Linked DNA regions of Homo sapiens: region 2 is linked to region 1. A link means that fine-mapping ties the variant in region 1 to the plasma level of a protein whose gene starts in the linked region. Region 1 holds a variant in brackets. A gene starts in the other region. All regions are shown on their forward strands.

Region 1 (14,864 bases):
ACTCACAACCGGGCAGACAGAAAGTAGAATGGTGGTTATCAGGGATTTGGGGGACAGGGAGTGGAAAGTCTATAATGGACTTGGAGTTTCAGTTTGGGAAGGTGAAAAAGTTCTGGAGATGGACAGTGGTGACGGTTGTCCCAAAATGAGAATGTACTTAAATATTACAGAACCGTGTACACTTGGAAATGATTAAAATGGGCCAGGTGCGGTGGCTCACGCCTGTAATCCCAGCACTTTGGGAGGCCCAGGTGGGTGGAACACTTTGGGAGGCCCAGGTGGGTGGATCACCTGAGGTCAGAAGTTCGAGACCAGCCTGGCCAACATGGTAAAACCCCATCTCTACTAAAAATACAAAAATTAGCCGGGCATGGTGGTGCATGCCTGAAATCCCAGCTACTCGGGAGGCTGAGGCATGAGAATCGCTTGAGCCCGGGAGGCAGAGGTTGCAGTGAGCCAAGATTGTGCCCCTGAACTGCAGCCTGGGCAATAGAGGGAGACTGTGTCTCAAAGAAAAGAAAAAAGGCAATGGTTAAAATGATAAATTTTTGTTATGTATATTTTACCACAATTTTTAAAAAGAAATGAGGTATTGATACTTCATTGACAATGTAGATGAATCCAGAAAACATTATGACAAGTGAAAGAAGGCAGAAATTGAAGGTCATATGTTGTGGTATGGTTCCAATTATATGGAACGTCCAAGATAGGTAAATTCATAGAAACACAAAGCAGATTGGTGGGTACCAGGGGCTGGGGGAGGAGGGAACAGCGAGTGACTGCTTGATGGGTACGGGGTTTGGTCTCCTTTGATGTGAAGAAAATATTTTAGAACTACAGGTGATGTTTGTCACAACCTTGTGAAGATACTAAATGCCTCTGAAATGTGTGTTTTAAATTGGCTCATTTTATATTATGTGAATTTCACCTCAATTTTTTGCAACAGAGACTCCTTCAGGGTGAGCAAAGGCCTGGAAAAACCTGTATGCAGATAAAGAAAAGGAAAGAAAGAGATAATCAGTGCATGCAGTTGTCAGCTGGCTGGGACCTGAGGAGAGTCACTTGTGGAGGCAACTGGTCTTTATCCCCATTGTCCGGTACAAGGCAGGCATTAATCCTGTGATCCTTATCTGAAGCTCAGGTTTGATTTTATTCTTTTCTTAAGTACCTACTGTTATCCCCAAGCTTATAATAATAGTTTAATTGTTACAGCCAGTATCTCACCTTCAGAAGTAAGATGCTTAGGAAACCAAGACAAGGAACTGTGTGTTGCAAACAGCATCACCCTGGAGAAGAGGTGGCAGGAGGTGACCTACAGAAAATGGAGTAATAGCCTAGAGCAAGAAACACAGAACAAAAGAGAAATGAGGGGTTAGGCAACCTCCTGGAGCACCAATGGGACAAGCACATATTCAGGGGCCTCCTAACAGACTCGACTTCCAGCATCCTCAGATGGTGCTAGACACGTTACATAGACGTTCAAGAGTAGAGAACTCAGGGACTTCTGATTTATATCAAGAAATGCATACACAGCAGACGTGTGCCTGTGGAGTGGAATTCTGGAAAAGCTCACAGCCCAGAACATAATGCAGACTCCCCCAGCCACAGCACCTTCCAAACCTGAGAAGAGTGCTGATTCTCCATCTGAGCACCCATTCTCCTGCAACATCAGGGGAGAGGATTTCACCTAAGGGTCAGACCAGCATCTCCAAACCCAGCTCCCCACCTTTGCCTGTTGGTGGCACTTGTGGGAGAAGGGGAGATGGTATGAAAAGAGCCACAACAGGAGTCACCTGGACAGGGTGGAGCTTGATGGAAACTGACATTTGTGCCCATTGGAGGCAAATGTAGAATTTGGTATCTTCCGTAGCGTCAGGCACATGAAACTCTCCAGTGCCCATGACTTTTGACAGTGACTTCAGAGCACATCTGGGAGACCCATGTGGCCCAGGCTCCACACAGGCAGGAGCTCAGCTTCACTCACAGCAGGATTCCTAGTGCCAAGAACACCATAGGTGCATAGCAGGTGATCAAAATAATTGTATGTGGCTGAATCAGTGAGAGGTAAGAGAGAGGACTTGATCCTAGCTGCAAACTAAGAGACCTCATTAAAACCTAACATGTGGCTGGGTGTGGTGGCTCACGCCTGTAAGCCCAGCACTTTGGGAGGCCGAGGGGTGGATCACCTGAGGTCAGGAGTTCAAGACAAGCCTGGCCAACGTGGTGAAAACCCATCTCTACTAAATATACAAAAAATTGGCTGGGCATGGTGGCAGGTGCCTGTAATCCCAGCTACTTGGGAGGCTGAGGCAGGAGAATCACTTGAACCCAGGAGGCGGAGGTTGCAGTGAGCCGAGATTGCACCACTATACTCCAGCCTGGCAATAAGAGCAAAAGTCCGTCTCAAAACAAAAAACGAAAAAACAAAAAACACCTAACATGTGAGGCCCAGCATGGTGGCTCAGACCTGTAATCCCAGGATTCTGGGAGGCTGAGGCTGGAAGATTGCTTGAGCCCAGGAGTTCAAGACCAACCTGGGCAACATAGCGAGACCCTGTCTCTGGGAAAAAAAAAATTACCTGGGCATAGTTACAGTCCTAGCTACTCGGGAGGCTGAGGCAGGAGGATTGCTGGAGCCCAGGAGTTTGAGGTTACAGTGAGCTATGATTGCACCACTGTATTCCAGCCTGGGCAATGGAGCGACACCCTGTCTGTCTTCAAAAACTATATATATATGGTGTATGTGTGTGTATGTATGTGTATGATATCAGAAAAAAATAACCTATTCATGGTGGGGGAAAAAAGAGCCTGACTTTTGAGGTGTATAAGCGTGGAGTCGGGTTCAAATCAGGCTCTGATCTTTCTGGCTCTGTGATATGGGGCAGGGCATATTACCAAGCTCAGCCTCAGCATCTCTACCTGTGAAATGGGCTTGATTCAGTACACCACACAGGGCTGCTGTAGTATGTATGAATTAATGTTTGTGAAATATTTAGCATGGTGCCTGACACATGGTACTCAGTAAGAAACAACTATTGCTATTAAGTGCTTTGCACTTTGGTTTTCACAGAGCTAACAATTTTTACTGTCTAGCTTTGTGTCTTTGAAAGATTTTTGAGCTCTGAGAATGACCTTTTAAGACCTCAGCACTTCTAGAAGAGGTCACACTTTGAGCTTCAATAGCTAGCATTTTTGTCAATTAGTTAACAGTGTGCTGAAAGCAAGTCCCTGTAGAGAGTGTTCACGGGCATGAGCCACAGGGAATACAATGTGAGGCCTGTGGAGGTGGCAGCTGAGGATGTCAACAGGGAAAGCACAGAGTACCAAAGACAAAAGTTGCCCAGGACAGTTCTGTGTTAGCTACCTGGTGGCA[G/T]CCTGGACACCCAAAGATAGAGCTGAAGACACCTCTAATACAAGAGGCGGATGCCCCGGAGACGTGGCTGATTCCTTGGCTAATTTCCTCAGCCCCACCGTTGTGCAGCTTTGTGACTTCCTGGAGAGCCTACATGCAAACAGAAAAGTCCCAGGATAAAGAAATGTGGATATTCCACACATTTTAAAAAGACCTGGAGGGATGAAGAGGACAAGCTGTCCCAGTAGGCCCCGGACTGCCCTGGTTTTAACACTAAATGTCCGACATCCTGATAACCCTTACTCCCAGGCAAATCAGGCCAGTTGGTCATCTAATTGGAGGTTATCAAAGGAGGTGGGTTTTAGCATCCTCTTTCCTTTCCTGTTACATTGAGACCATGGGGTGCTATTGAATAAACTTGATTCGGTTTCTTCAAAAAAAGCCAGAAATTGATCTAATAGGTTTTGCTCATATTTGGTAATTGAATTGGACTGTATACAGTCTGCACGTTTACCTTATTTTCCATTATATAATGGTACCAAATATCACAATGATTTTCAAAAATTAATGCTTTTAGTGATGGATTACTAGGTGTTGAAATGCTTTATAATATACTTATGAAAACATTTATACAAATAATTTCATCCTCCACATGACATTTAGAAAAGTTTAGTCTGGCTGGGTACAGTGGCTCACTCCTGTAATCCCAGCACTTTGGGAGGCCAAGGCAGGTGGATCACCTTAGGTTAGGAGTTCGAGACCAGCCTGGCCAACATGGTGAAACCCCGTCTCTACTAAAAATACAAAAAATAGCCCAGTGTGGTGGCGCACACATGTAGTCCTAGCTACTTGGTAGGCTGAGGCAGCAGAATCACTTGAATCTGGGAGGCAGAGGTTGCAGTGACCCAAGATCACGCCACTGCATTCCAGCCCAGGAGACAGGGTGAGACTCTGTTTCAAAAAGAAAGAAAAGAGAAGAGAAAAGATGAAAAGGAAATGTTTAGTTTGAAATTCCGTTACCGAAAGTTCTCGGGGGTTGGGGGAGGTGGGAGGCAATATCTTTTTGCTATTATATTTCTTATAGTGCAGTGTCAGTGAAACTATGTCATCCTTTGTAAAATCAATAAAATCCCTGTCAATTTATCTGGCCATTCGATACTTTATCATCTATAATTTTTCAAGACATCTATTTGGTTGAAGTGTCTTCATCAATTGATGGACTGTACATCAGTCTGGTTTGGCAGTTTACATTGTATTTTCCTCTGAGTTTATCTTCTCTGTTTCATGGACTTCACTAGGGTCAGTGGTTCTTAAGTTGGATGATAAGAAACCCCAATCTTCCATACAGGGTACAGTTTGGCCATTGGTTTTAACTCAGGTCATGGCATAGCAGTTGCATTTCTATGGAAGCAAAGCTAACCTTGGAAATGGACTCTAATCAAAGACTCACTAACATCAAACAAGTCATAACCACATTAAGTAATGTCTTAAAGGCAAAAATCAATAGTAATTCACTTTGAGCATTTAAAGAGTCAGGCTCTCAGTCACTGTCTTTGAGATTATGAGAGCATAGTAGAAAACAGCTTGTCCAACTGCCTTATTTAATAGATGAGCTCATAGAAATGAAGTAACTCAGTCGAAGTGACATTGGTTTTCATGGCTAAACACAGGAACTGGAAAATAATGGGAGTATTGTTAGAAATTACAATAATATTGAAATTTGACTTCAAGCTAATGAGTCAAGTATGAAGATATTAACTTCACAAACTCGATAGCAAACATGTCCTAAGAGATAAGACAATTTTATTTAGCACTATCTTTTTTGTAAAAGATTTATAATAAGAATAAAGAAAACAAAGTTTGTATGCTAAGAGAACAATGCAATACTTCCATAATTTCTTGAACAACTGTAGTGAAGCCAGAGTATCCCAAGCTTCCCCAGCCTGAAACAGTCTACCACATGAATGTGAGGCTGTAGCCTCACACCTCCGAGCACCTCCTCACCATCCACATCTGCTCATACCGGTGTTTAGTCCCTACCTGAGTGTCACCTCGTCTTGTCCACGAGGACAAGCCCAGTGGACTCAAGTGCAAGTCCATCTGTATTCTTGGGCCTCTCTCTCATGATGGTGGCTTTCACTGTGATGCTTCCATGCCCTTTGAGCCCTGAGTGCAAGGCCAAGGTGCCCCCACAGCTTCCTAGTTGCTGCTGAGTTCCCCACCCCCCAGATGGGAGGTATGCACCTCCCATTCTGGGTCTCAATAGATCACCTGGGCCCCGGTCCTCTGAAAGCCTATTGAATACAAGTAAGTAACACAAGGCTGTTTTGTTCATTACCCCTATAATTCAAGAAATCCAATTTGCGAGACAGAATTGACTTGAGGCCAAAAACTCCAGGGTCATTCTGCCCCAACTTGAATCCTGGCACCACTTACTGCTATGTGATCTCAGATGCCATAACTAATCTCTCTAATTCTATTTCCCTGCATTTAAAATGCAGGCAATGCCCATGGTTTGCCCTAATGACTCAATGACTCTGTATTAAAGGGCTTACTATTGGCCTGTCATGTCTCAATAAATGTGTTACTGTTCTTTCTCTGTGTTGACACTGGATGTACAATTGCAAATAAAACACACACTTGTCTTGGGGATGCTTGCAGTCTAGTGGGCCAGTTGGATTTATTTCAGTTCAACTATTGGTTAACAGATGAACAATAAAAAGTATTGCTGTAAAAAAGATGAACGTCCAGAAAGAAAGAGTCTGTCTGGTACACAAATAATTGTGATAAATACAACAAAAAAAATGTGCACAGGGTAAAAAGTAACAGGGAGAGTGACCAGGAAACTTTAAAATTATAGTAATGTGATCCAGGCTACATTCACTGGCATTTCCCAAACACTCTCCACAGGGGAACCAGGATGGGATCAACCCTAAGACCTTCTCACTCATCCAACTAAAGGCAGTGAGGAATGGGAACAGACAGAAAGGGATGGTTTAAGCCAACACTCAAAGTGTTAAAATCAAACCAGTGGAAAAGGATCAGCTGACCAGGCTGAAGGGAGAGGTAAACTAACCAAATGAGGTACCACATTGCTCAGCGAGTCAACAGCAAAAAGACAAGGGTCTCGGCTGTGGCTTCCACTGGAGTTTGGAGGTACGGAATTTTCCTCCTATGCAGTGGCCTTCAGTGTTGTGCTTGTCGATCCTTAAAAGAATGTTGATCAGGTGCGGTGGCTCGTCCCTTAAACCCCAGCACTTGGGGAGGCCAAGGCAGGAGAATCCTTGAGGCCAGGAGTTTGAGACCAGACTGAGCAACATAGTGAAACCAACCTTGGCTCTACAATGACAACAACAACAACAACAACAAACTAGCTGGGCATGGTGGTGCACGCCTGTAGTCTCAGTTACTCTGGAGGCTGAGCTGGGAAGATTGCTTGAGCCCAGGAATTTGAGGCTGCAGTGAAGTATGATCATGTCACTGTACTCCAGCCTGGGTGATAGAGTGAGACCCTGTCTCCTAAGGAAAAAAAAATGTTAATAAACTGTTTAACGTCCCCCCCCTACACTTTTAAGTTGACATTTACATTTATCATTAGTTTGTGATAAAGAATGTATTTTCCAGGATATTGTAGACTGGCTTTCAGTATATTTTTGTCAGACTTTTGAGGCCAATTTGGCTCTTTTGCTTAATGGAAAATGGGAGTGTTTAGGTCTCAGGGTGTGCTCATGAGCAGGCTGGGATGGGTGGGAGGCTTTGGTGAAGTGGCAGAAGGGTGATTGGACTGGGAAGAAAAGAGGAACTTGCAAAACAGAGACACTTCAGGGAGCAGGTTAGCTGTAGGAAAGAGTACACACCTAGGACGAGGGCCTGGAAATTGGTCATCTAAAAGCTATCCATGGCCACGTAACCCCTGAAAAGTCTTTCCATATTACAAGGGGTATACATACCCCAGTTTGAACACCAAAGCTTAAGTTCTCTCAAGTTCACAGTATATGCCAGGTTGAGTGAATTAAAAAGTATAGCATCAGGGTAAACAATGATAGTGCTAGGCAAAATTACTCAAAACGTGGAAACAAAGTAAAGAGATTCCACTTCCATCAATGTCATGCTATAAGACGATTGTCTGACAAACCCATCCAAGGGTCTTCTGACTCTCAAAGGGTTTTGACTATTTATTTTTGATGTTATTACTGGTAGGCTCAGATATTTTACAGCCCTGTAAAGTTAGAAATTATCTCCTAAGAAACTGATGAGTTGGTTTTCTTTTCCATGGTGGAAAAATGAGATCACCCCAACTGCTACAGTTTAATTGCCCAATAGGACATTAACTAGGGCTGCATCTAATGTGCCAATATTAATTCATCCTTCCATTTTGTTCACATTGACTGTAATAATCCTCGTTTTTCAAATTCTCTTTTGAACCCACTTTATGGGTTCCCTTATTACCGAGATAAATAAAATGTTGGCATGTGCTCACTATCTCTTTGGATAAGATTATGTTTTTTGTTTGTTTGTTTGTTTTTGTTTTTTGAGACGGAGTCTCGCTCTGTCGCCTGGCTGGAGTGCAATAGTGCAATCTTGGCTCATGCAACCTCTGCCTCTCGGGTTCAAGCAATTCTCCTGCCTCAGCCTCCTGAGTAGCTGGGATTACAGGCACCCACCACCAGGCCCAGCTAATTTTTGTATTTTAGTAGAGACGAGGTTTCTCCATTTTGGCCAGGCTGGTCTCGAACCCCTGACCTCAAGTGATCCACCCACCTTGGCCTCCCAAAGTACTGGGATTACAGGCGTGAGCCACTGTGCCCGGCAAGATTATGTGTTTTTTTGTTTGTTTTTTGTTTTTTTTAAACATTCAGAGAACTATATGTTGACAGAAATCTAAACAAAGTGTACAGAAGGTGCAAGGAAAGGTTTTGCAATACGGAAAGGAAACTTGGGGAAAACCTGGTGGAGACCATACCTGAGCTGAGTCTTAACAGGAGTTAGAATACCTATAAACAGGAATTAGATAAATGGCTGGAGGAGAAGGAGAAAGAGGCTATTTCAGACTGAGGGAGCCTGACAGATGATGGGAGCCCAATGATGTGGGTGTAGAAAAATGCCAGGAGATAAGGCTGACAGGTGGGGAGAGGCCAGAGCCTGAGGCATTCATGTCATGCTAACGCACCAGAGCCTTTTCCTTCATGAAAACGGGATATCTTGAAGAATTTTTAGCAAGAAAGTGATGTAGTAAGATAGATTTGTATTTTAGAAAGACCATTTTTTTCCCCAAACTTTTAGGTTCAGGGGTACATGTGCAGGTTTGTTATATAGGTAACCTAGTGTCATGGGGGTTTGTTGTACAGATTATTTTGTCGCCCAGGTACTAAGCCTAGTACCCAATAGTTATTTTTTTGAATCCTCTCCCTCCCCCCACCCTCCACCCTCAAGTAGTCCCCACTGTCTGTTGTTCGCCTATTTGTGTCATTGAGTTCTTATCAATTAGCTCCCACCTATAAGTGAGAACATGTGGTATTTGGTTTTCTGTTCCTGTGCTAGTTTGCTAAGGATAATAGCCTTTAGCTCCATGAGTGATCCAGCAAAATATATCATCTCATTCTTTTCTATGGCTGCATACTATTCCATGGCATGTATGTACCACATTTTCTTTATCCAATCTGTCATTGATGGGCATTTAGGTTGATTCCATGTCTTTGCTATTGTGACTAGTGCTGCAGTGAACATTCACATGCATGTGTCTTTATGATAGAATGATTTATATTCCTCTGGGTAATATACTCAGAGATGGGACTGCTACGTTGAATGATAGTTCTGTTTTTAGCTCTTCGAGTAATCGTCACAGTGCTTTCCACAATGGTTTGCACTAATTTACACTCCCGCCAACAGTGTAAAAGCATTCCCTTCTCTCTGCAACCTTGTCAGAATCTGTTATTTTTTGACTTTTTAATAATAGCCATCCTGACTGGTGTGAGATGGTATCTCATTGTGGTTTTGATTTGCATTTCTCTAATGATAAGTGATATTGAGCTTTTTTTCATATGTTCATTGGCCGCATGTATGTTTTCTTTTGAAAAGTGTCTGCTCATGTCCTTTGCCTACTTTTTAATGGGGTTGGCTTTTTTTTCTTGTTGATTTGTTTAAGTTCCTTATATTAATAGAGCCTGGATGTGAGACTTTTGTCAGATGCATAGTTTGCAAAAACTTTCTCCCATTTTGTAGGCTGTTTACTCTGTTGACAGTTTCTTAACTATGTAGAAGCTCCTACATTTAATTAGATCCCATTTGTCAATTTTTGCTTTTGTTACAATTGCTTTTGGTGAGAAAGACTAATTTTGTGTGAAGAGTACAATGCATAAGTGGAAATGAACCCAAAGATGTACAGCAAACTGCTGAGAAATGGGAAGGGTATGAACTAAGGCAGTAAGCAGGCATAGAACAATCTGACATATAAAATAAATAGGGCACAACAGTTGCTTTGATGGAGTGGTGAAAGAGATAGGAGGTGAGAAAGGGCATAAGCAAGATTTGATCATTGACTATGCGAGGGTGACAAGGAAAAAGAGGGGCTGACCTACATCAGCAATTCCTGCTTCTGGCATAGAGATGGTATCACTTCTGTTGCGAAGACTACAGGGACAGCAGGCAGCATGCTGTATATATTTCTAGCATGTGAAACGGAAGTAGGGCAAGGAAAAAAGTCCTTACGTTCCTACTTTTTACATGGTTCACACACATTGTAGAATAAACCCTTTGCCTGGGTCACGTAAAATTCTACCTTTTTATTATTATTATTATGCTTTAAGTTCTAGGGTACGTGAGCACAGCGTGCAGGTTTGTTACATGGGTATACATGTGCCATGTTGGTTTGCTGCACCCATTAACTCATCATTTACATCAGGTATTTCTCCTAATGCTATCCCTCCCCCTGCCCCCCAACTCACAACAGGCCCCCATGTGTGATGTTTCCTGCCCTGTGTCAAGGTTTTCTGTCCTTGTGATAGTCTGCTCAGAATGATGGTTTCCAGCTTCATCCATGTCCCTACAAAGGACATGAACTCATCCTTTTTTATGGCTGCATAATATTCCATGGTGTATATGTGCCACATTCTCTTAATCCAGTATATCATTGATGGACATTTGGGTTGGTTCCAAGTTTTTGGTATTGTGAATAGTGCCACAATAAACATATGTGTGCATGTGTCTTTATAGTAGCATGATTTATAATCCTTTGAGTATATACCCAGTAATGGGATCATTGGGTCAAATGGTATTTCTAGTTCTAGATCCTCGAGGAATTGCCACACTGTCTTCTACAATGGTTGAACTAGTTTACACTACCAACAGTGTAAAAGCGTTCCTATTTCTCCACATCCTCTCCAGCACCTGTTGTTTCCTGACTTTTTAATGATCGCCATTCTAACTAAAATTCCACCCTTTGTATAAAACATTTGCCCGGTCCATTTGACTCTGAATCACCTTGGTATGTATAATTGCCAAATATACTTTTTTTCCAGATGGCAATTCACATCTGCCTTTTAGCTTAGTGCTGAATGGAAGGCAAATAATTGAGGAGGTTCAGTAAGGATAGTTCTCCATTAAAAACAAAAGAAAAAAAAAGAGAAAAAAAAGCGCCAACCTAACTGAATACTCTCAGATAGGACTGATAATGCATTGCAAATACTGAAAACAAGTTTTCATTAGAACATTATCTTAAACTAAAATCTGTTGCCAGTCGCAGTGGCTTACCCTTGTAATCCCACCACTTTGGGAGGCCAAGGCGAGCAGATCACCTGAGTTCAGGAGTTTGAGACCAGCCTGGCCAACATGGTGAAACCCCATCTCTACTAAAAATACAAAAGTTAGCCGGGCGTGGTGGTGGGCACCTGTGATCCCAGCTACTCAGGAGGCTGAGGCATGAGAATTGCTTGAACCTGGGAGGCGGAGGTTGCAGTGAGCTGAGATTGTGCCACTATACTCTAGAGTGACAGAGCGAGACACCGTCTGAAAAAACAAAAAAATTATCTAGGTGTGGTAGTATGTGCCTGTGATCCAGCTACTTGGGAGGCTGAGACAGGAGAATTGCTTGAGCCCGGGAGGTGGAGCTTGCAGTGAGCCAAAATTGCACCACTGCGCTCCAGTCTGGGCGACAGAGCAAGAATCCATCTCAAAAAAAAAAAAAATTATCTGGGTGTGGTTGTATGCACCTGTAATCCCAGCTACTTGGGAAGCTGAGACAGGAGAATCGCTTGAGCCTGGGAGGCAGAGGTTGCAGTGAGCCAAAATTGCACCACTGCACCCCACACTCCAGCCTGGGTGAGAGAGCGATATTGCATCTCAAAAAAAAAAAATCTGTGAAAATAAGTTTATCTTAACACATTGTTATAATTGCAATTACAAAGTAGTGCTCGGAACAAACAAAATTAAGTGAAGTGTGTTTTAAACATTTAGACAATTATCGTAAGACAGTTTGTTATCCTTTCACACAGGGAACAGTAGACGGGTGGAGAAACAGCAACAAAGATACCATGTGAAGGTATTGCTTTATACACCTTGGCTTGGATCTGGGCCATGCAGGTGCCAGCTCTGGATTTCCTTCCCAGCAGACAACTGCCAGTACAAGGAGACTCACAGACATTATTGAACAACCCAATTGCATCATACTTTAAAAAAGATTCAAATTATATATAAAAAGTGATGAATTCAATACCACTTCCCCCTTTCTGTTGATTACAAATTGACCACACAAGGGAATATTTAGGGTCTTGTGGCAGTAGATGCATAACTACCTATTTCTCTTGAAGTCCTGGTCTCAAGTGATCCTCCCACCTCGACCTCCCAAAGTGCTGGGATTACAGGCCTGAGCCACTGCACCTGGCCCATCCATTTGTCAAAATCCACAGAACAATACACTGCAGAGAGTTAACTTTATGCAAATTAATGTGGGATCTTAGGATAGAATGGCCAGCACGACAAATGAACTTAATTATATTACAAAGGTATGGCATAACCTCACCAAAGTGAGTGGGGAAAAAATAAATTGAGTAAATAAATAAAAGTTTGATTGATTACTCAATCAAAAAAGAATTGATTTGAGTAAATAAGAAAGAAATTGAATTGATTTGGAAAACTGTTTTGACTGGCTACTTTCAGGATAAAAACAAAAAGAACCGTACATAAACACTGTAGTTGGAAAACTTGCTTCCACAGAGTTAGAAATTCTGAAACTACATGTATTGTTAACACACACACACACACACACACACACACACACACACACACACACAAGTAGAGAGAGAGAGAGCACAGCACCCAGATCCATATCATTGCTGGGAGAATTAGTGGTGCTGCCCATAGACTCTACTCAGAAAGGACAACTGGAAGCTTGTGCGTGGTCTCTCGTGGACTCTGCTGCCTCTTACCTTTGCTATTTTCATCTGTATCCTTTCACTATAATAAACTGTAACTATGAGTAAAATAGCTTTTTGGGGTTCTTCTAGTGAATCATTAAACCAGAGGATAGTCTTGGGGATTAAAGACTCTCAGTTATTAGATACCCTATTTTAGCATTAAGTTTAACCCAATCTTAAAATCCAGCTTTAAGACCAGATGATTAATTTATTTAAAGCGAAAAATCTCAACAAAAATATTAAATAGAAATCAGCAAGGCTAGGCACGGTGGCTCACGCCTATAATTCCAGTACTTTGGGAGGCTGAGGTAGGAAGATTGCTTGAGCCCAGGAGTTGGAGAACAGGCTGGGCAACACAGTGAGACACTGTCTCTACCAAAAATTAAAAAGGTAGCCAGGCATGGTTTTATGCACCTGTGGTCCCAGCTACCCAGGAGGCTGAGGTGGGAGGATCACTTGAGCCCAGGAGGTCAAGGCTGCAGTGAGCTGTGATCGCGTCACTGAACTCCAGCCTAGGCGACAGAGCAAGACTCTGTATCAAAAAAAAAAAAAAAAAAAAGATCAGCAAATTGTTTGAATTTCTCCTCTTAGGAAAAAGAACTGTATTAGCATATGTTACTCTGATATAGCTGATATGGCAATATCAACCATCAAAGATATAATGGTATACTTATCTGGTATAATTTATAAGTTTGCCTCAGTAGAATCACAGCCTATTCTGTAGTTAAAAATATACACTGCTAGTATTATAGCAAACTTTAGTGGCTTTTGTGATAAAGAAAATAAACTTCAAAAAACTCCATTATTCCCTCTAGGATAACTTTATTGTAAGTCTATTTAAGAAAACAGTCCAGGCTGGGCATGGTGGCTCATGCCTGTAATCCCAGCACTTTGGGATGTTGAGGCAGGCGGATCACTTGAGGTCAGGAGTTGGAGACCAGCCCAGCCAACATGGTGAAACCCTGTCTCTACTAAAAATACAAAAATTGGCTGGGTGTGGTGGCAGGTGCCTGTAGTCCCAGCTACTCGGGAGGCTGAGGCACCACAATCGTTTGAACCGGAGAGGCAGAGGTTGCAGTGAGCTGAGATCGCGCCACTGTACTCCAGACTGGGCAACAGAGCAAGACTGTCTCAAAAGAAAACAAAAAAACAGTTTACAAACTTTTCTGTTTCATGGATACAGGAATCAGAAACTGATACCCAAGCTCATAAGTGGCATAAACATAATACTCAAACAGCATAACATAATACATATATTCCCTCTGTGTTTTGAAAACTATTTGTTAAAACAATCATTCAGAAAAGTAGACAAATCAGGCTGGGTGTAGTCGCTCACGCCTGTAATCCCAGCACTATGGGAGGTCGAGGCGGGTGGATCACCTGAGATCAGGAATTCGAGAACAGCCTGGCCAACATGGTGAACTTGTCTCTACTAAACATACAGAAGATAGCCAGGTCGTGGCATGCACCTGTAATCCCAGCTACTCGAGAGTCTGAGGCAGGAGAATTGCTTGAACCCAGGAGGCACAGGTTGCAGTGAGCCGAGATCGAGCCACTGATCTAGGCTGGGCGACAAAAGCGAAATTTCGTCTCAAAAAAAAAAAAAAAAAAAGAAAAAAGACCAGGCCGGCTCGGTGAGCCGAGGGGGGCGGATCACTTGAAGTCAGTAGTTCAAGACCAGCCCAGCCAACATGGTGAAACCCCGTCTCTACTAAAAATACAAAAATTAGCCGGGCATGGTGACGCGCACCTGTAATCCCAGCTACTCGGCAGGCTCAGGCAGGAGAGTCGCTTGAATGCGGGAGGTAGAGGTTGCAGTGAACCTAGATCACGCCACTGATCTAGGCTGGGTGACTGTAGCCTGGGTGACAGAGCAAGACTCTGTCTCAAATAAATAAATAAATAAATAAAAGTAAAGACTTCTGCAAAGTGTGTGTGTGTGTGTTTGGGGGTAGTGGGTGGGAAGCGAAAAAGAGGCTTTTTTTTTTTTTTTTTTTGGAGACGAAGTCTCACTCTTGTCACCCAGGGTGGAGTGCAGTGCACCATCTCGGCTCACTGCAACCTCCGCCTCCTGGGTTCAAGCGATTCTCTTCCCTCAGCCT
Region 2 (16,495 bases), not on the chromosome of region 1:
ATAAACTCCTTGAAAGTAAAGATGGTGTATCTTTGCATGTGACACAGTTGTCATGGAATCAGTCATTTTAAAAGTTTGTTAAAAGAAGGTGTGGAATTTAAAAATAACAATCTGTATTAATTACCAAATCAATCTATCATGTAAAAAATTGAAATATGCCTATCCAAGTAACAGTGGCATAGAGAACCTCGGGTTACAATCTTGTCAATAAAAATTCATTTCAGAACTCTTTCCTAAAATATATAGTTATTCAATAATACTTATCGTGAGAAAAAAAATCCCCATATAGGAAATAGAAGGAAGAAATATTTACTCATGTAAAGTATAATTTGAGCAACAATTGGAACACCTTTGTCTTTTTGCTCTTTTTAAACTGTTAATTAATAAGAAAATTTTATATTAAGAAGGCTTTTAGTTAAAATTCAAATTGCTTTGAGAGACGTAACAATAAACTCTTTTTTATTTTGTTTGAGCTTTTATATAAGAGTGTAGATACTTATTTGGAAATTTTATTTTATAGGAAATAATCTTAACACTGATTTATAGTGAGAAAAAGAGGACATAATGTTAACTAAAATAAGCCACATGCAGAATGAAAAATACTGCATAATCTCATATGTGGCATCTAAAAAATAGTCATTACTGGGGCAGGGCGGGGAGTGCTGGAAATGGGAAGAAGCAGGCCAGAAAGTACAAACTTGCAGTTATGTAGGACGAATGCCTAATAAATAATAATAAAAATAATAAATTGCACAGCATAATGATTGATAGGCTAATTTGCTTAACTATAATAATTATACACACATACATATACACATGTATACACATGTAAAAAATCTATATCTCTCAAAGCATCATGTTATACATCTTAAATATATACAATAAAATATCCTAACTCAAATTTAGGTACTTTGAGAAAGACAAGCTTAATGTTCGTGACTATTTCTACTAGATTCATTTTTGCTGTCCGTAAGCAAAGCCGTACCTCCACTAAGAACCTGGGTCCAACTAAGATGTCAGAGAGAATACCTCCTAATTCTTTCAGGCTGCCATGTTAACATTTCTTTAATATTAATAATGATTCCTGTGCTTTCATTTATTCAATATGTGTGTGCATTATCTGCAGTTACGGGTTAGTGAAGTATGAAGCACAAACATGTTTTGCTCCATATCAGAATATGAAAGCCAACAATTTAGACTTTAAAAAGAAATGTATTTTCCATAGCTTCATACAGAGCGTATTTTCATATTGTAGTAACTATTGCCATTGAGAACAAATCAGGATAAGCTTTGTGTTATTACCAACTACCATTGACCCTTAAATAATGCAAGAGTTAGAGGCACCAACTCCCACACAAAAATCTGCATATAGCATTTGACTCCCCCACAGCTTAACTATTAATACCCTACTATTGACTTACCAAGAACATAAACAGTTGATTATCATATATTTTGTATGGCGTATGTATTATATATGGCATTCTTACAATGAAATAAACTAGAGAAAAAATGTTAAGAAAACCAAAAGGAAAATAAAACATAGTTGGTATTTATTAAGTGGAAGAGGATCATCTCATAAAGACTCATCCCCAGCCAGGCGCGGTGGCTCATGCCTGTAATCCCAGCACTTTGGGAGGCTGGAACGGGCAGACCAATTGAGGTCAGGAGTTCGAGACTAGCCTGGCCAATATGTTGAAACCCCTTCTCTACTAAAACACAAAAAGCCAGGCTTGGTTTGCAGGCGCCTGTAGTCCCAGTTACTAGGGATGCAGAGGCAGGAGAATCGCTTGAACCCGGGAGGTGGATATTGCAGTGAGCCGAGATCCCGTCACTGCGCTCCAGCCTGGGCAGCAACAAAGTGAGGCTCCCACTCAGAGAGAGAGAGAAAAAAAAAAGGCTTTGTCTTCCTGTTGAGTAGGCTGAAGAGGAGGAAGGGGAGGAGGAGGGGTGTCTCAGGGGTGGCAAAGGTGGAAGAAAACCTGTGTATAAATAGAACCGTGGAGTTCAAACCCGTGTTGGTCAAGGATCAACTGTACTCTAAGAGAGTAGAAGTTGGAACTCTCATTCAGGCCATACTGAACTAGAAATACCATTCGACCCAGCCATCCCATTACTGGGTATATACCCAAAGGATTATAAATCATGCTGCTATAAAGACACATGCACACGTATGTTTATTGCGGCACTATTCACAATATCAAAGACTTAGAACCAACCCAAATGTCCAACGATGATAGACTGGTTTAAGAAAATGTGGCACATATACACCATGGAATACTATGCAGCCATAAAAAATGATGAGTTCATGTCCTTTGTAGGGACATGGATGAAGCCGGAAACCATCATTCTCAGCAAACTATCGCAAAGACAAAAAAACAAACACCGCATGTTCTCACTCATAGGTGGGAATTGAACAATGAGAACACATGGACACAGGAAGGGGAACATCACACACCGGGGCCTGTTGTGGGGTGGGGGGAGCGGGGAGGGATAGCATTAGGAGATATACCTAATGTTAAATGACGAGTTAATGGGTGCAGCACACCAACATGGCACATGTATACATATGTAACTAACCTGCACGTTGTGCACACGTACCCAAAAACTTAAAGTATAATTAAAAAAAAAAGAAAAAAAAGAGAAGGAAAAGGTTGGGGGAAAGGTCTGCAATTCTATTTTGGATGTTGAGGAGAAGATGAGTGGGACAGCTGCAGCTTGCTCACTTTAGAGGGTTGGCACAGTTGTGCCCTGCTTTGCCAAGAAGAACACGCACAAGGGATAGCTAACAGGCAAAGTAGACCTGGAATAAGGGATGAGGGCTTGGAGTGGAAATGGCCTATAAAGTCTCAGTCTTCCCAGTGAGTGGTCCATGAGTCCGTAAGTCAGGTAGTTTTGCCCTTATTTTATTTTTTATTTTGTAAAAATTTATTTGTATAGACTTAGAAGTGCAGTGCGGTTTTGTTACATGCATATATTGCCCTGTGCTGAAATCTGTGCTTTTAGTATAACTATCACCCAACTTAAAAAAAAAAATACTATCTGGCTAGAAAACTGATTTTTCCATTATTCTTGTTATATCCAAAAGGTCTGGTTTTAGCGACTATTCTATTACTGTTTTTAAATGTCTCTTGGTCAAATATACAGTTTTCATTAATACAAATACTTTGTTACACATTAATTGTGCAGATTTCCACTGGAAAATGACCATACTTTGTATCCTTCCGGCCTTGTCACTGTTGTTGGCATTATTCTAAGGCTTGCCGTGAATACAGAACACCACTGCTGTCATTTTTCAGTAAGCATTGCCATGTTTTTCTTGTCTCATATTGGCTTCCAGTGGGTTCTGATATGATTTCTTCTGCTCTGGATTCTTATCAGTATCTTGCTACCTCATTAGCAAGCATCGTTTAGCAGAAACACCTGAGCCGACATGATGCCACCTTGCTCAGCCTTTTGCCTTTCTTTGGGACTGTCCAACCTAGCTTCCTTTCTCTTTACTACAAGAAGACCGTCAGCCCTTTGTGAGCTGATAATTAATAATCAATTAAGGTTTGATAATAAAATTGCACTATATTGTACTTTGGCACCTGAAGTAATTTATTTTCATAACACCAGGAGCAGCTCATCACCAATTATAATGAAAGTAGGTTCACAGTCTATGATTTTTTTCTTTCATATAAAATTTGTGTAACCAGAAATAATAAGAGGTGTATAAAAGAAGTGTCATGTAGCTATAATACATTGATTAATATTTGTTGTCACATTAAGTGGGCTTGGGATCCTTACAAGAAAGGTGCTATTTAAGCATAAAATATTGGTGTTGTGTCTGTACTCGCATAGCTTATAAATTATATCTTGAGAGTTCACAGACACAAAGCAAGTTTTTACCATTGTCAGCAAGCAAAGCCAATGTAGCTGTTGGAGAGGGAGCCTCCTGCGTCATCAAAAGAATTCCCAGCTGAGCCCTGATCCCCTTATCACTACCATAAGTGATGGTCGATGGTAGTTCAGGTATAAAGAACACAGTTCCAATTCCAGGTGCCAGGCTGAACCTGATATGGTAACAGGGAAAAGATCTTCTAACTCATAAACACAGAAAACTAGATATAAATAAGGATTATGGCAAATAACTCGGATATAACAAAACGCAGTCTCTTCTGAAAAAAAACCAAAAACCAAAAAACAGCATGTGTGAAAACAATGTATTTTCCTCCAAAACTGCAGGTTGTTATATGCCAATTAGCAAGTTGAATAAGATATTCAGGTAAAACACTAGAATGTGAGATTATACATTTGTATACAAAAATTTTTGCCAAAATCTCATATGTAAATTTATTCATCTCTGTGCAGTTCTTAAAGTAGTAGGTTCCTAATAAATGTCAATTGAATGAACCATATATCCTGGTGAGTATATGCAAATGCCACAAACTGTCAATTAAATTTAATCTTGTATTTTACCTTGCATTGCACTTGTGCTAAAACTATTCCCCATTAATTGGATTCTTTATATGTGAGGTATGTTAATCTGATATGATACAAACAACTTGTTTTGTGGTGTTCTAATTCTTTTATTCAAATTAAAATGGGGATTTGTTTAGTGAACAAGTTAAGAACACTATGGTGGAGGCACTTTACTTAGATTTGTGTTTCATTAGCTCATTAATACAGAATTAAACATTTCATCTCAAGCATGCTTACATGCCTAGTGTATACTTAGCCCTCAACAAATGTTAATAGCTCCTGTTTTGCCACTGAGTGTAAGGGTACCTTCGAAACATTCTGACATTTTGCAGTTTGCCAATGTATTTATTAGATACTTCATGTCATATAATCTATACAACTTGTCTTATAGCTTCAACTGCTAATTTGGGGTTCCTCTCAGTTCTCTAAAAAATCGGAACATCCTTAGGTCAGAACTTAAATGGCATTGCTAATTAGAGCATGAGTGCCATCTAGTGGTAGACATGGCTAACTACAGGCTTATTGGTGAACAAAAAAAAAATAGGTGGTGAAAATGTTCTGCTTCTTCATTATAATGCAGTCTCTTGGAGTTAGTCTCAGACAAACAAATGAGACATCCTATATATACGCTACTCAGCCAATAAAAATTTAAACACAAAGTATATCAGATTGAGGGGTGGAAGAATTTAGTTCCTGGTCCACAGGAGGCATACAGTCTAGTTCTACACCTAAAGATCTACACAAAATGTTTTAAGCTGGATTCTAAGTACATTTTGGAAATATTGTAGATGAGACCAGGAATGTCTAATATATAAAGGTGAGAATCATATTTGATAGCAATATTTTTGAAGGATGATTATTTTGATGGAGGGCCAAATATCAAAGACAGGTCAAGTTAATGTACCTGACAGACTTGGGAGACAGGGAAGAGATGGGAAATGATCAAGATGCAACACACATATGGCCATTCTTTAAAACCATAAAGAACAAATTAGACTAATTCTAAGAAACCATTAGACATTTTTATCCCATACTGAGAAGAATGGTATGTAAACAGTGACAATACAGAGGTATTTACCTGGTCATGAGCAAATGAATCTTTGGTTTTGTTTCTTTATGGAAACAACTTTATATCCAGAGGTCTTGGTGAGAGAATGCTACATAAAAGAAAAATTAGACATCTGTAAAGGTAAGTGAATTAAAACTGATAGAGATCCTGAGACTTAAAATATATCCAAGAAAAAAAAATAGAAATGCATATCTAAAGGAATCTACTGGATGAAAACTAAGTAAACTTTACCTTTAAATTAGTAAGATTTCAACTTTTACTTCTATTTTCTAAAATCTTAATTAACTGCAAATGTTTATGGTTTGCATAAATAGTTGGACCAAAATGTCACAAAGGGTGAGCATAAATTCCACCTACAGGAGATTAGATATTTGCAGCTTCTGTAAGTAAGAGTTGGTACTGTGACCACCAAAAGCTTGACCACCACAGTTGAATTAGAGCTCCTCTCTCATACTTCTTAATGGTTTTGGTTGCCGATGTTATCAAGACATCCACAAAGTAGACTATGTTCTTTAGCGTTGTTTACTGAAGCAGCTGTTAAATTAATTAAGTTGGTATATTTTCCAAGTCTGATTAAGATATGTTTACTTCTGCTTTCACAAAACAGCTGTGATATGAGTACTGAGACACATCTTCTAAGAAACTCAAAATATAATTAAAATCATATTTTGTCCAGTTCAAGTAAAAGTTTACTTTTGCTTCTTCATGTGTTACTTTGCACTTATAGGGAATACTGGCATATATTGAAAATGCAAGATTTTGATTCCTTTAATTTTTATCTTAGTACTTACCCATTCACCATTATTGGTAACACATTAACATAGAGGATTAAAACATCAAAACAGAAAATGCAAATGCTAAAAGAAGCTCCAGTAGGCAAGGCAGATGATCCAAGAAAGATGACTGATCTAGACATGAATTCACCATTGGTCTGCTTCCCTACAGTTATGCTATGATTTGATGGAACATAATAATAGTTATGATCTGTTAACTAGAACCTAGAACTTATCTGAGTCAAATGAAGGGAAAGAGAAAGGAGGGCATGATTTCAATAAAAATCTGTTACACAAATAAGACAAAAGCTCAGAGGCACCTCAACTGCTACAGATGTGCTGCATCTGCTTGCTTGCCCATTGGGGACGATGAGATAAAGAGATTAAGACATTTACACAAAGATGGCTAGACAACAAGATCAGATCAGCAACATGACAGCTAGGTTGAGGTGTCATAACCATAGCATAGAGAAAGTGACCTACTGAACCACTTACCCCACTTACAAACAATGTTTTAATTAACTTAATGTACAAATGATATTTTACCAGGGTACAGGATGAGCTGGTTAATTCAAAAATGTCATTAGCATCAAACAGAGAAAACCAGTGATCTTTTAATAATGCCATTTTATTAAGAAAACAGCATTGGAATTTAATAATGGGGCATACATACTTTTATATCTTTTAAAGACAAATCTTACATCAAAACAACTATAACTTAAAATCCCATTCTCACATGTCAATAGTAGAAAATCTTGGTCATGGTATGTGAAAAGATTTGATGTTTACTTGGAAAACACAAGGTAGTTTGTTTCTTTTTAGTGGAACTCTAACAAGGAGTTTTGTTTGTTTGTTTCTTATTTTAAGCACTGTTGTTTCTCTAATTCCAGACATTGACCTGCTTAAACCTGAACACTGTGGATATAAAAGGATACAGAAGTGTACCTGATCTATAGAGCCCTTACTCTCCAAGCAGAAAATTGTAAAAATATACAGTACATAAGTTAACTCCATAACAGCAAAATTCTAAAGAAAGATGAGTCAGATAGACTAACAGTTTGTCTGTTACATATATAGATATTAATAGGGAATATATAATTGTATATTATTACAAATTAGAACATTAAAAGTCATAAAAGACATGAGAATAAATATAGTCACTCTTTCTGGGTCCTGAATGAAGTGTAGCCAGGTAACCTAGTCACCCCCAAATAATGATTGAAGTCAACATTTTAAATTTGAACTGACAGAAATAGACCTTACTATTTTTAATTAAACAGATTCAACGTTTCCTTTCTCTCCCTCTAAAGCATCAGATAACTTCGCAAGGAAAAGTGCTATTACATTATCTACTTGTTTCAAAAATATATTCACACCATAGTCTTGTGATAATATTGCTCTCTTTATAAAAAGTAGAAACATTAAAAGCTTTTATTTAGTTCTTGCTTAAGAAAGGAGAAATATTTAGTCCATTTACATCATGTAAAAGGTAAATTTTCTTGTTCATGTTAATGGTAGGAGGGCACCATGAATCATGTGACCGATAGCATTTCCTTCTTTACATTGGCTGCTAACAAAGTTAATGGCAGACCTAGCACCATTTGTAACAAAAACATCAATGCAGTTTTCTCTATAAACCTCATTTCTGGCTTCATCTTATCTCTCCTCCTATCACTTTACCGTTTGTCTTGATCTCACTGACCTACATTTTTTATTCATTTTTTTAAACTGAATAGATTTTTATAAGCCAACTTACATCCTTTCTAGGGCAAAGCTAGTTGAAAGAAATTATGTGACATAATGACTCAAAATGCCCAAATTATCGGATCATGGGTAATATAGAATGGTGTTCTAAGAAGGGAAGAGAACTTTCAGAAAGCTTTCTACACTCCCGATCCCTCTTTCAGGCTGCATGTGCTCAATTATACACTTTTAAAGGCAAAAACCTCATCGAACAATAAAAAGAATGCGTTAGAGCTCCTACACTTTGAATTTATTTTGTGATGTATTTAATGTGGTTATAAAAGTCCTGGTAGTTCTCTCTGTGAACCGACAGCCTGACAGAGGAGAAGAGCCAGTGGGGCAGAGAAAAAGCCACAGAAGGGGAATCTCCACAACGATCCCTCAGTTAACACATAAAGAAGATAACCTAGTTACTGGAAAGCAGGAACACGAATATAAAAAGTATGGAAGAGTGGAGAAGTATTAAATGCACACAAATTTGTCTTTGCTACAGAACAAGCAATCAGCCTAGATCCTGAGGATAGCGATTAAAAGCAGAGACTGGGTGTTTGTACATCATTGGATGAATGAGAAGCAGCCAAGAAACAGGAAAAGACTAATTTTAATTACCAGAAAAACTGCAAGAGAAAGAACACAGGGCTAGTGGTAGACGGCTTCCAGCTACAGGCTGCCTGGCACTGTACTCTCCTTGCCAATTAGAGCCAGTCAGACCCCATCGGGGGATTCAGTGAGCAGAAGAATCAGCGTCAGTCCAGGGTCAGGCTGCTCTCAAACACACATGAAAAACGGACACCAGCGGACACGGGGTGCGACCCTAGACTCCCATGCAGTTTCTTATACAGACACAGAGATAGAAAGCAGTACGTGGGATTTCCTTTCCATTAAATACAGGTGCAAACCACATTCTCTATGGAAATATATTGCAAAGGAAATGTTATATAATTTATTTAACAAATACCCAATTACCATCAGCCCAATCGTGGGAATTGGAAAACGACTCAAAGACTGAGAGGAAAAAAAAAAAAAAAGTAGAGAGGAGGACTGGCAGAACAATGGCACTAAAGCTGCCACACTGTGGATTTACTACCTGTGTTATTTTTCCAATTACAGCCATTGTAATATAAAAATTCCGAAAAAAAGGTTGCTGAGACCATTCCTTCGCTTTTTTTTAGAACTGAGTCAACACCCCAAATCAAAGAGAAATATAAACAGGCAGAGCCTGATAGTCCTTAGATGAAACGCGTAAGTGCAGAAACAAAAGAGAAGTGCTTCCCATTCAGGACTTAAGAAAATTCTGCAAAGTGAAAAAGTCCACTCTCAAACCGACCTAAGTGAACGCGTCAGTCTGTGCTGCTGCTGTCAGAGGTGTGAGCCGGGGACTACAGGAATCAGAGTGAAGACAGGAGCGGAGGAAGGGACTCTCGCCTGGATCTCCCGTGCCGACTCCAGCCAGCACGTTTGCTTTGTAATCTATGAATGTTAAATACGGAGGGGTTGCAGAGCAGAAACGCTCGGGGAAGGGGGGCAGGTCCTCTGTACTTAGCAGGGAAGGAAAATGCCGGTTGACTAGTGAGACGAGTGGAGAAACACAGAGCACCCTCCGGGAGGCGCACAGTTCGTTAAGCCCAGGGACATGCTCAATGAACCTTTGCAGCAAGAGGCAGTGAGGCGCTGGACGCGGGCGCCGGTGACAGCGCGGGCGGCCGGGGAGGGGCGAGGGGCCGCCCCGGGAGGACACAGCCAGTCAGAGGCGCGGGGCGCAGGGCGCGCGGACGCATTGGAGGAAAACACGCGAGCCCCAAACACACCAGCCGCAGGAGGCGCCGCACCTACTTCCCAATATAACCAACTACGGCGTGGGGGAGCGGAACTGCGAGAAGGCGGCAGCCAAAGTGCCATTAAAGCTCGGGGCGGAGAGGATGCGTTACCTGGGTCCCGTCTGCTGCGAGAGGCAGGGCAAGCTGGAGGATTCCCTCTGAATGATTAAGAACTCCGCAATTCGCCTCTGCCACAGGCTGCAAAGGACCCGAGGAACCGCTCTCTCTGAACTGTGCTGATGGGCAGGAGGATGGGAGACAGGAATTGAGAGTCACAGAGGAAGGACAGTGGAGTCTGGCATCTTATTGGTAAGTGGCTGACATTCCTTTGCCAGTGACTGCGTTCTGTGATTGTGCACTTCATCTCCCAGCCACTTAGGATTTTTGACACACTCTGTTCTGCAAAGCCATCCTTTCTTGCCATGTTGCCAGAATGTAAAAACTGTAAGATGAAGCTTTTTTAAATAAAGGAAACAAAACACGACTTTATTTCCTGCTGGGATTTTATGGCAAAAAGTTGAAACAAGAGTAAATATAACCTATTTGTATATCTCCTAATGCCACCCAAAATAAGAGTAAGCAATTCCTACACGCAAATTGCAAATTGTAAGGCAATAAATGCCAGGATAAAGTGAGGATGTTTCTACAAAAGAAACTAAATGTTTGGAAAATAGGATGCCGTTCTCAGGTACTGAATGTATGCCTTATGTTTGAGCAATGAGTTTCCGAGACTAAATAATTGGGCATCTGGCATTGCAATAACTTGTTAAAATTCAGTAGGGATGCTCTATAAGTGGAGTTCTACAAAGTTCGTGAGACTGAGAAAAACTGTATCTTGGATTATGCTGAGCTTTTTTCTAAAGGTTGTATAGGATTGTGATAGATTAAAAAATTATGTTCAGACATCCTTACCATGTTTTGTAGGGAGATATACGGAAGAGAATATCAATTTGCACATACACAAACCTGAGAATTACTCTGATGACCTGAACAATAAGTTGTTTCAACTATATTTATTTGCGAAAGAACCAGAATCCACTAAATATTTTAGAATTATATTACTTTTAAATCTTAGAACTGTTCTCCCAAGAAAAATACAATTTCATGTGGTAATTTAAATGCAGGTGAGAAGCAAAAAACTTTTAAACTGTTGTATGTTCAATGCCTTACCTACATTTCATTCATTTGTTTCTTAATTTAAAAGAGAAAATCATTTAGAGGGTCAATACTTCTACTTTGATTCTCAATTACGACTGTGGAAATAAGGATGAAAGAAGTAGATGTTCATTAGAATACTAGCATTTAAAATTATAGACAAATAGTCAAATTTAAAAATTAATGCAGATATCATCGATTACTGTTGAATTGCAACAGAATTACAGAAGTACTTATGACCATTACAGGGAGCTTAAAGGAGTTCATTATGATTAATATTGTGACTCTCAGTATTTTAAAAAATAATGATTAGGTCATTAACTGTTTTTGAAAATGCCTGTAGTCAATTTTGAGCAATTCTCATGGTTGCTTGCATATTCTCCTATTTCATGCTCAAATTATTCTAAGTTAAGTGGGGACTAGTATGCTGAGTCTTAAACTTAACAGGCATAAGTTTACTCTGACTCTAATCGAAAAGAGGTATGAGTAAGAATATGTCATATAAAACTAATGATAACAAATTAAAGATATTACATAAAAAGATCATCTAAGTCCATTAAAGGGAAAAAGGCAAAAAAAATCAGAGTTAAAGTTATAAAAAGGGAAATTCAATATAAAGAATAGAATTTGACAAATAGCTGGAGTGTGAGGGAATGATATTAAAGCCTATCTGAAAATAGAAAGTCAGTGAAATGATTATTACAAGTGCCAGTGTTTTTGCTTAGGAATTGGTGTATCCTTTAAATTATTTAAAACTTCTGAAAATTGAGAAAGGAGGAGAAAAACTGCTAATTTTAATTTCTTTCTGATTCCATAGACAACTGAACAGAAAGTTAGATTCTTAAAAGTTATATAAAAATATAATCCCATAGATTAACTAAATGCCGGACTTTGTCTATAAGTTGTGAGGCACATGCACACCAAGGTGCTTTTGGAAATACATCCAAAAAGCTACAGTTGTGGAATTTTTAAATGAATAGCTGAAATACCTGAATGTTTCTCAAGGTGAGCAGTTAGTACTTCAAGTATTAGGTGGTCTGAAACAATTCTTAGTCAGGGAGCCAACCTGAAATCAAATCATGAATCTATACATAGAATATGTTTATGTAAGATGAATCATTAAAATTAGTAGCATGTAAAAATTTACTTCAATCTTATGTGTCCAATTAAGTAGCGCTATCTGTTAGAAATGTACCAGGTTTGGCTGATATGTATTTCTTTAAATGTCTCTTTTACTTCACAGTTTAGAAAATCTTGACCACTTTCAGGGTAGAGGTAGGAGTGTGATTGTCTGTCACAGCTGACTTAGCAATATGGACCAGAGGGTGCCAGTAAAGGGCAAAGGGCCCGCATAGGCTGGCCAAAGCATTTTGGAGTTTGTCTTACTTCTAGACAAAATAAAGGCATAATTTGTGAAGATTAAAATAAAAATGATGAAAACTTCTCTAGATGGCTGTAATACTGTGAAGATGATTTGACTGTAGAGAGTTTGATTGGCTAAAACAAAGTTGTAGCAGAGTTTAGTGTCTCCTTCATCAGTCAAAAACTAATCCAGAATTTTATGAGGCTCAGATATTTACAATATTGTAATTTGCCGAATCCATTCTTTCTCATGTATCTTGATTACCTATTGTCTTTGAACTTTCTTTTAAAATACGGGTTTTTAAATTTTTACCAAGTCGTTGGAAATTTATTTCTCTTACTTTAAATAATAAACTCATACATTCATGTAGTTTGTTTTCTTGAAATTCTGACTCCAGGAGTTGATTTTATCTCTCTTTCTTCTTTCTGACAATCCAAGCATAAAGTAAGAGAGTAATATGTTTCTCACAAGATGTTAAGAACCGTGTTGTAAGGCTGTGCTAACATGTTACATGAACTTCTTAACACTTTATAGCAGGAAAGAGACTGGTCGGAAGCTCAAAGCGGTAGAATCACTGCAGAGGTCTATTTTCTGAGCATTTGTGATCAATAACTCCACATTAGAGGCTGGTACATTTTAAAAAGTAATGAAGTATATAAAACTCCTAATGCTTAAGATTTAAGATTAAAAACTATTATGAACTATATTCCATCTCCCTACCCACTCAAGTAAGAAATCCTGTTTTATGATTTTTGGAGATTCAAATGTGTATTGTTAGAAGTGTTCTAATAAACTGAATATTATTAGTTTATGTTTTTTCCAGACACTTAAACAGTGTTTTAGTTAATTATTTTATTTAAATTGAATGACACAAAATATAGTGTTTTAATACAGTGGCTATAAAAGCAATTTTTAAAGGGAAACATGAATTTGCTTTTTAAGAAAACTGGTTTTACAATGGATTTCTTTCATCAAAATTATTTTGAAGTATTGAATTGAATCCCAAGAAATTGACACAACACTGTATAACTTCAGTTATGTTTTGCCTATTATAAATATTTGCATAAGCTAATTGTAGATAATTTTATGTCTATTAATCCCCATAAATTAAAACACACGTCTTTAGTTTTATATCCCAGAGTAGTGCATGTTATATTTTTGACATTATACCCTCCTCAAACATAAGCTCATACGTGTTACAAAGCTATTCAAAGTATGGTAGTTTCTCTTTTCTCCAGTGCAGGGAACTGGGAACTTTCCAGAGAGGCCACAAAGTAATTGTGAAAAATAAATCAAGATTGTCTGTTTTATGGAAATAAAAAAAAGAATCTCATTTTTAATCTAATATAAAATAGTGTGAGATCTATCATTCATGAGAATCTTAAGAAATTACAGTCATATTCATTTCCTGTGTATTTCTTAAGCTAGAATTTCTTGTGATCACTGCCATTTTTAAACGTTTCAGAAAATGTTTCATTAGATACATTTTAAAACACGGGTGTAAAGTTGTTTTTTCTCTTTTTCTAAGTGGTTCTTAAAAACTCATAATGATCTAAATAACTTGTTGCCCAATGGCCACTTTTTATTTATTTATTTATTTTCACAAATGACCTTCTCATAACAGATCCGACAGGACTCACCTATTTCCTCTTATGCCAGTCATGTTTCCAAATATTTCTCACACTCAATTTGCATAGAGCGGAGATCTAGATAAAAAGCAAGAAGCCAATACATTTTATGAGTTTTCTATGAAAAATATTGTTACAGTTAGTATCTTTACTAGAAAATATGGAGCCAATTAAAGGGAAAGTGACTAAACTGAACAGAATCCAAATAAGCAATTGCATTTTAGGCAAGGAATATTTCATTTATCTGAATGATCAAAAATTCTCTTTCATAACCATTGACTGGAAAAGTATAATTATATATTTAAACATTTTATGAAGGGCGTAGAGATGTTCTTCATAGGATTCTTATAGCTGCTAACAACCCAGAAAGGAGAACATCTCATCTTCCATTACTATCCAGTAGTAAACGTAGCATATGTTTAGGAAGAGAAATGTTGCTGATTATATAGGTGATAAAAAGTTGATTGAAATTCTCTTCCTTTTGTGAGTTATAATATTGGCAGAAGCATTCATCATGAGGCTAAAAATACTGAGATGCTCTCATCGAGAGATATTATAATGATAGTAATAAAGTATCTGGAGCTGCAACCAGGTCTATTAATGTATTTTTACAAATATTTCATTAGTTGCAGGAGTTTGTATTTATCATATAAATAGTAGAGAAATGGGATGTTGATTTTGTGAGAAATTTACTTTTAAGTATATAAAGTTTTATCTTTATTTTCTTAAATAATTAATGTTATACTTAGAAGTATTAAGGATTTTTTTCTGAAATTAAACGAAATATAAAGGCAATACTCAAGAATTTAGAACAACTATTCTAATTCACCTAGGTTCTCCCATTTCAGTTACATGCAAGAACTTACTTTCAATTATGCAATATTTGTTGAGATACTATTGTTCTTGAGCCTTTAAGTGTACTAAACTAGACAAAATCCCTGATGATTAAAAGTAATATTATTGGAAGTTACAGGTGAGTGACAACAGGAATTTTTAAAAGAATTTTATTGTTTTCTAAAAATACATTTTTATTTAATTGGCAGTTTCATGATCATTAAATATGATAGGAATTCCTGGGCACTGGAACAGATTGACCCCAAATATATCTGAAAACACTGTGAAAAGTCTCATGTTTAATCTGTTAGGTATTGTATTTTGCCTTATTTTGTTATTTTAAAACCTTCTTCTTCATATTCTTTTCTAAAAGATATAGACTGGCTTAATATTATCTCCCATATAGCAAAAATTATTAAAACAACTTGTTAGTGACCACTATTTCTTTTCTAATTTTGTATTTTCAATGATAAGAATTTCAAAAGTTATGGCATTGATAAGAGAATTGAAACTCTAAGCTTCATAATTCTATTTAATACTCTCTTCCTCCTTCTGTGATGCTGTTATTCTAATGTGTGAGCTGGTGAATGAGAGTTCATGCTAAAATAACCGTATCATTCAAATTCAGCACAAATCTCATGATTTATTGATGATTAATTGTGGAACCCTTAGGAAAAAGTGACAGAATAAATACCATTTAATATTGGAAGGGGCCATGCGAGCTCATATTTTTACCTACTCATAATAAACAAAGTTTCTTCACTAATAAGCAAGGGTATAAAAAGGTGAAGTGATGTGTTCAACATTGCAAGTAATGCAAAAGATGGAATTAGAACCCACATCTCTTAAATTTGAAGATCAGAGCTTTTTATGGCTTATACTTCATTTTAGACTGTGGACATCTTGATTATTTTTGTATCTATTCAAATCAAATCCTTATATTAGAATATAAATATATGTAATTTCCTTGTTGCCACTGATTATACATAAAACATTGTCTTTTAAGATTAGAAATTTAAGATCCAATTATATTAACTCAGTGGAAACTGCTATACCCGCATTCTCTTAACCAACAACTACAGAACTTAATTGCTAGATGTGAACTTTTTCACAATGAACTTGGTATGCACTCACCAGCTACATCAAATGACAGAAGGGGTTTTTTTTTTGACAGTTTTAATTATGAAACTTGGGAATCTTTTAGAGTATTATAATGAAGTAGAAAAAAGGATTTAAGTGATTTTATTCCATGGCATATATGTAAGGGAACATCCATTTGCCCTATAATACTTCTTAATTTTTCCCAGACTGGCAGGTTTTCTTTTTTTCCTAGTAATAAATGTTTAATGGAAGCCCTAAATCAAACAGAAACTCAGCAAGAAATGTAGATGAGAGTATATTTCTGTGTTTGACAAATTTTGGGTAAACTTTAATTCATGGGCTTTTTAAAGGTAGTAGCGATTTTAGAGCATTTGATAATAAAGCAGAGAATATATCTCTTGAAATATGCACTACTTTTCTGTGTTTTAAAATTCAAATGTCAACTTGTATATAAATTCTAGTTTTTCTGTTACAATATTAAAGGAGGTTAATAGACAACAAATTTGAAACCGTAATAGTATTTAATCGTCATTGTATCTGAACCAAAGTTT

Which allele goes with the higher level. Alleles are on the strand shown, and positions count from the first base shown. The strength of an association depends on the size of the effect and on how common the allele is.
For the plasma level of the protein whose gene starts at base 9,851 in region 2, T is the high allele of the variant in region 1 and G is the other (weak association).

The links. PIP is the chance, under the fine-mapping model, that this variant and not a neighbour inherited with it causes the effect. Protein levels are from antibody-based Olink assays in UK Biobank. Linkage for the fine-mapping came from a reference panel and not from the study's own genotypes, which makes the PIPs less certain.
Region 2: it holds the start of CNTN5, and the variant in region 1 is fine-mapped to the plasma level of the CNTN5 protein (UK Biobank, PIP 0.94).

The regions. Positions count from the first base shown.
Region 1 is chr9:94,358,539-94,373,402 of GRCh38, forward strand. It overlaps LOC100132077 (a long non-coding RNA gene), which reads left to right. Exons shown (of 3, transcript NR_033937.1): 3 at 947-2,410. Among named protein-coding and RNA genes, the nearest start is that of SLC71A2, 8.6 kb to the right of the region's middle. The variant G/T (reference allele first, on the strand shown) is at 3,374.
Region 2 is chr11:99,011,099-99,027,593 of GRCh38, forward strand. It overlaps CNTN5 (contactin 5), which reads left to right and starts at 9,851. Exons shown (of 25, transcript NM_014361.4): 1 at 9,851-10,172. RefSeq lists a silencer at 12,228-12,428.